Linked DNA regions of Homo sapiens. The protein of the gene in region 2 interacts with the protein of the main gene of each other region in a biochemical or structural test. Each region holds a gene or a part of one and is shown on either strand. Other genes may lie near its edges.

What was found. The genes of interacting proteins can lie anywhere in the genome.
Region 1: the proteins of KCNJ4 (region 2) and TJP3 interact in a test that uses a peptide from one of them, tested with the Homo sapiens proteins (one large-scale study listed by IntAct).

What each region holds. Positions count from the first base shown.
Region 1 is NC_000019.10:3,732,384-3,735,883, reverse strand, and holds part of TJP3 (tight junction protein ZO-3), read right to left. Parts: intron 2,132-3,500; coding exon 1,972-2,131; intron 1,558-1,971; coding exon 1,449-1,557; intron 319-1,448; coding exon 245-318; intron 16-244; coding exon 1-15. UniProt on the Homo sapiens protein: TJP1, TJP2, and TJP3 are closely related scaffolding proteins that link tight junction (TJ) transmembrane proteins such as claudins, junctional adhesion molecules, and occludin to the actin cytoskeleton.
Region 2 is NC_000022.11:38,428,514-38,431,199, forward strand, and holds part of KCNJ4 (inward rectifier potassium channel 4), read right to left. Parts: intron 1-2,686. UniProt on the Homo sapiens protein: Inward rectifier potassium channels are characterized by a greater tendency to allow potassium to flow into the cell rather than out of it.

The DNA of each region.
Region 1 (3,500 bases), on a different chromosome or scaffold from region 2:
TTTCCCTGGGCAACTCTGAAAGGGAAAAGCCAGTCTCTTTCCCAAGCACACTGGCTCAGTCCAGCCTCCAAACCTTTGCTTTATGTCCTCATCCTGGAAGGACTGTCACCCACCTCGAGTCCTTCTCAGGAAACCATGTCTCACCACTTAGGCTCAGGCCAACCTCCCCCAGCTCTGCCTGGCACAGCCTTGCTGTCAGGGATCAGAAATGTCAGGGACAGGGGTGCTCAGAGTCACCACCCACCTGACCGTTGCTCATCTGGTTCCGAGATGGTTCTGGAATCTACTGAACTTTCCCGCCGAAGCCGGGGACTCTCCCTGGTGGGGAACAGATTGGGAGTGAGGCAGGGATGGATTTCAAGGGGCCATTTTAAAAAGAATTTTAGGCCGGGCACGGTGGTTCATGCCTGTAATCCTAGCATTTTGGGAGGTCGAGGTGGGCAGATCACCTGAGGTCAGGATTTCAAGACCAGCCTGGCCAACGAGGTTAAACCCCGTCTCTCCAAAAATACAAAAATTAGCCGGGCATGATGGTGGGCGCCTGTAATCCCAGCTACTCAGGAGGCTAAGGCAGGAGAATTGCTTGAACCCGGGAGGCAGAGGTTGCAGTGAGCCAAGATCATGCCACTGCACTCCAGCCTGGGCGACAGAGTGAGACCTTGTCTCCAAAAAAATAAATAAATAAATAAACAAAATAAAAATAATTTTAATTTATCTGGGCTGGGCGTGGTGGCTCACGCCTGTAATACCAGCACTTTGGGAGGCTGAGGCAGGCCAAATGCTTGAGCCCAGGAGTTCAAGACCAGCCTGGGCAACATAGCTGGGCAATACAGACCCCATCTCTACCAAAAATATGAAAATTAGCCAGTCTCACATGACTCAGTCTCAAAACAAATAAATAAATAGAGGAAAAAGAAATTTTTTTTTTTAAGACAGAGTTTTGCTCTGGTTGCCTAGGCTGCAGTGTAATGACACGATCTCGGCTCACTGCAACCTCCATTTCCTGGGTTCAAGTGATTCTCCTGCCTCAGCCTCCCAAGTAGCTGAGCTTACAGGCACCCGGCACCACGCCGGGCTAATTTTGGTATCTTAGTAGAGACAGGGTTTCACCACGTTGGCCAGGCTGTTCTCGAACTCCTAACCTCAGATGATCCACCCTCCTCGGCCTCCCAAAGTGCTGAGATTACAGGCGTGAGCCACCGCACCTGGCCTAAGGCAGAGTTTGATACTAAGAAGTGGGGTGCTGCTGTAACCAACACCTACAAATGCGGACACGGCTTTGGAACTGGGTAATGGGTAGAGGCTGGAGGTATTTTGAGGCACATGCTAGAAATACAGGACTGCGTCCTCAAGGTTACCCCCAGTTGGAAAGCTACGCCCGCGTTCCCCTCTCCCTCCCACCTCCCTCTCCCTCCCTATCACCATTCTGGCCGATGGGTGATACTTACACGGGAGAGTCGGTCTGGCTGGCCTCGGGGCTCCGCTGAGCATGCCGGGGTGGTGGTGGGATGTGGGATGGTGGTGCCTGCGATAGCTCCGAGGCGAGGTCCGAGATGTCTGCAGGGGGAGAGGACATCTCATCAGCCATGGTCACGCCTTCTGGACTGGACCCATTTTACAGAGGGGTATATCAACACCCCTCTAAACAAAGGGCCCTAGACCAAAGTCAGAAGCTCAGTTAGAAGATTCGGCTCTGGAGCTGGGCACGGTGGCTCACGCCTATAATCCCAGCTACTCAGGAGGCCAAGGCACGAGAATCGCTCGAACCCAGGAGGCAGAGAATCGCTTGAACCCAGTGAGCCGAGATCGCCCCCCTGAACTCTTGACTTGCTGTGTGGCCTTCAGCAAGTTCCTGTCACTCTCTGAGCCTCTAGGGACCAGGCTCATTGATTCCTTGGCCCTGCCTGGGGCTTCCCACCTTCCCTGCCATCCATTCAACCCCCTCCCAGGTCCTAACCTCTAGGTCCTCACCCTCCAATGGCGAGCTGTCGCTGTCACTGACAGCAGGCGGAATGTTCACCAGGAACTGCCCACGATCTCTCAGCACCAGCAGGCTTAGCTTCCCTTCTGACTTCTCAATCAGTCGCCGGGTGTCGTTCAGTGACAGGTTCTGGCTAGACACCCCGTTGATCTGAAAGGGACCAGGAATGAAAGAGCGGAAGTGAGTTAATGAGAGATGGGAGACAGTAGAAACAGCCTGGTGTGGGGGAACTTGAAACAGACAATTCCCCCAGAGGTTGCTAAAAACAGCCACTCCCTAAGGAAAGTGTTGAATTGGATTCCTGCTGTGAGTGGAGACCACACCAAGAACTGAGCACCGAATTCTAGAAACAGAAAATGTTCTAAGAGGGGTGGGAGACACTGGGGAAAATGAGAAACAGGTTGACTCTCCTTTCTTACCAAAAGTGGAAATGTCTCAGGGGATACTAGGAACAGATGTGAGGGTGACATTATAAACAACTCTAACTGGAGAAGAGGGAGTATCAGATACTTAAAAGATACTAGAAACACACAATCTTCTGGGAGATAACTAGAAACAGATATCTAGAGTGGGGCGCGGTGGCTCACGCCTGTAATGCCAGCACTTTGGGAGGCAGAGGCAGACAGATCAGTTGAGGTCAGGAGTTCAAGACCAGCCTGGCCATCATGGTGAAACCCTGTCTCTACTAAAAATACAAAAATTAGCAGGGCGTGGTGGTGGGCGCCTGTGGTCCCAGCTACTCAGGAGACTGAGACAGGAGAATCACTTGAACCCGGGAGGTGGAGGTTGCAGTGAGCCAAGATCCCGCCACTGCACTCCAGCCTGGGTGACAGAGCGACACTCCATATCAAAAAGAAAGAAAAGAAAAGAAAAAAGAGAAGAGAAAAGAAAAGAGAAAAGAAAACAGTCATCTAGAGGTAGATTAGAAACACACAATTCCTAGAAAGAACTTAATGTCGGCCGGGTGTGGTGGCTCATGCCTGTAATCCCAGCACTTTGGGAGGCCGAGGCGGATGGATCACCTGAGGTCGGGAGTTCGAGACCAGCCTGACCAAGATGGAGAAACCCCGTCTCTACTAAAAATACAAAAAATTAGCAAGGTGTGGTGGTGCACGCCTGTAATCCCAGCACGTTGGGAGGCCGAGCGGGGGGGATCACCTGAGGTCAGGAGTTCGAGACCAGCCTGGCCAACATGGAGAAACCCGTCTTTTCTAAAAATACAAACATTAGCTGGGTGTGGTGGCGGGCACCTGTAATCCCAGCTACTCGGGAGGCTAAGGCAGGAGAATCACCTGAACCTGGGAGGCGGAGGTTGCAGTGAGCCGAGATTGCGCCACTGCACTCCAGCCTGGGTGACAGAGCGAGACTCTGTCTGAAAAAAAAAAAAAGAAACAGATAACTTTTTGAAGACACTGGAAATAATCAGCTGAAAGCAATTTGGAAATCAAACACTAGGAGTCACTAGAAACAGACTTTCAGGGGAAGAATCCAGAAAGATACCATCCTTTAGGGCAGGGCA
Region 2 (2,686 bases):
CCCTCTGTCCTGCTTGCCCTGAGCATAGGGAGCCACGGAGGCGCTAAGCCCGCTTCCCTCCCTGGATTCCATCTCTGCACTTTTGGGCTTCTCGGGGGCTGGACATCCTCCTGTGCACTAGCCACTGGCCACGTGTGGCTCTTTACATTTAATTAAAACGAAATAAAATATTAACTGCAGCTCCTTCCTTGCATGAGCCACATTTCAAGTGATCAGGAGCCACATGTGGTCAACGGCCACCACACTGGACAGAGAAGACACAGGAGAGTTCTATCACTGAGAAATTTCTGGCTGGGCACAGGGGCTCATGCCTGTGATCTCAGCATTTTAGGAGGCCGAGATGCAAAGATTGTTTGTGCCAGGAGTTTGAGACCAGCCTGGGCAACAGAGTGAGACCCCATCTCTACAAAAAATAAGAAAATTAGCCAGGCATGGTGGTGCATGCCTCTGGTACCAGCTACTCAGGAGGCTAAGGCAGGAGGATCTATTGAGCCCAGGGGGTCAAGGCTGCAGTGAGCTGTGATCATGCCACTGAACTCCAACCTGGGTCACAGAGCAAGACCCCATGTCAAAAAAAAAAAAAAAAAAAAAAAGAAAGAAAAAGTTCTACTGGGACCCGCAGCCCCACCTGGGTCTGAGCTCCTTTCTTAGACTCTTCTCTCCCAGTGTTGCTTTGAGTCCTTGAGCCCAAATTCCTGCCCAGTGCCCACACTTGTTAGGAGCAGTGGTGAGGGGAGAATCCAATGTGACAGTCAGGGTGGAGGAAGGGGGAGCCCCCAGCTCTGACTCCTCTGTAGACATCGCTATTCCCATGTCCCAGGTGGCTCAGAGATGGAAAGCCACCTGCCAGCCACAAAGCTGGCAGTGGATACAAACTTGCGTGGCACCAACATGAATGAGTTGATGGCGGGGAGACAGGGAGTGGGAGGGGAGGACACACCTCGGGCAATTCAGTTCACCTCTCAGAGCCTCCATGTCTTCATGTAACATGGGCACCAAAACTCCCTACCTCATGGGACCTACGGGGACAGCAGGTGCTGGGGTAAAGCCATCACCCTCCTGCCTTCCTTCCCACACTTCCCAGGAGCTGGTGACAGGCAGGATTTGCCTGTCAAGCATCCCCAGCTGTTGCAGCAGAAGAGGCCCCTCACCCCACTGGGTGGCGGGATGCGCCTCGGGCCCGTAGAGGACAGACCTTCTCTCCACCCCTCTCTGCCATTGCGTCCCCAGGGAAGACATGCTGCTGCCCCAGGCCCCAGCAGCTGGCAGGGCCAGGACTGGGCCTGGGTTCCCAATAACATTTTGGCCCAGAATTACATAAGGCTGGAAGTTTCTATTTTCTGTTCTATTCTTCTTCCTGATCTAATTGTGCATCTGTGGCAATGTTTATACACTTCCCCGGTTCAGGACAACTCGGTTGCCGCAGCAACCGGTACGCGCCAACGCTATAATTTAGAGATCAACAGCCTCAGAGCCTGCCTCTTCCCAAGAGAAACTCCCTCTCCGGGCCCAGGGAGAGTGAGCCCTGCCCCCACCTCCTCCCCCGCGGTCACCCACCCTGACTCCGAGTTCTTCTCCCTATTCCCCTGGTTCTCAAAGAGCTCCCTGGCTCCTACAGTCCTGGGTTGAAGTCCTAGATCCACTGTGTGACTTGGGCGAGCTGTTGACTACTCTGAACCTCAGTTTCCTCATCTTGAAAATGGGGCTGACTGGGTGCGGTGGCTCACGCCTGTAATCCCAGCACTTTGGGAGGCCGAGGCGGGTGGATCACCTGAGGTTGGGAGTTTGAGACCAGCCTGACCAACATGAAGAAACCCCGTCTCTACTGAAAATACAAAAATTAGGCCGGGCATGGTGGCGTGTGCCTGTAATCCCAGCTACTGGGGGGCTGAGGCAGGAGGATCGCTTGAACCTGGGAGGCAGAGGTTGCAGTGAGCCGAGATCGTGCCACTGCACTCCAGCCTGGGCAACAAAGTGAGACTTCGTCTCGAAAAAAAAAGAAAATGAGAAAATTGGGCCAATGAGATATCATGCTGGAGACCCGACAGGTCATGCAGGCACGGCCTCTAACGTAATGCTGGCCCTTCAGAGCTGGGAGGCCCAGACCCTCTTTGCCCCCTCCCGCAGCATCCCAGCAGCCAGGGCTCCAGGAGAAAGGCTTGGGGTTCTGGGGCCAGGCACACCTTCTGCTCTGTAAATAGAGTTTTCAGGGAGGCCTTTCTTTGCTAAATGTATTCCCCCTGTTCTGTCCCACTGCCTGAAATGGCTCCAGGGGCACCGCGGACTGTCAGGACAGGAGGAGCATAGGGTCACCGAGTTCAGGACCCTCATTTTATATCGGAGACCAAGGACATCCAGAGATAGGAAGGACTTGCTAAGAGTCCCAGAGTGGAGCCAGGTGGGCCAGCCCTGAACAAGGCCTCACCCCCACCCCAGAGCTCCTCATCCACTTCCTCCCTGCAGGGGGCTGGAGTGGGTTTTGGGGCAAGGGAAGAGAAGAAACCAGCCAGTCCAAACTGGACCACCATCCACAGGTGTGCAGGATAGAGGCAGAGGGGACAGGGTGTGGCGGCCCAGGCCTTCAACGGGTGAGGTCACTGAGCTCCAGAGAAGGTGGGGGGCCCTGCCCAAGGCCAAACACAAGCCCAGGGTTCCAGGGGATCCCTGGTTCTCTGCCCGGTGGGAT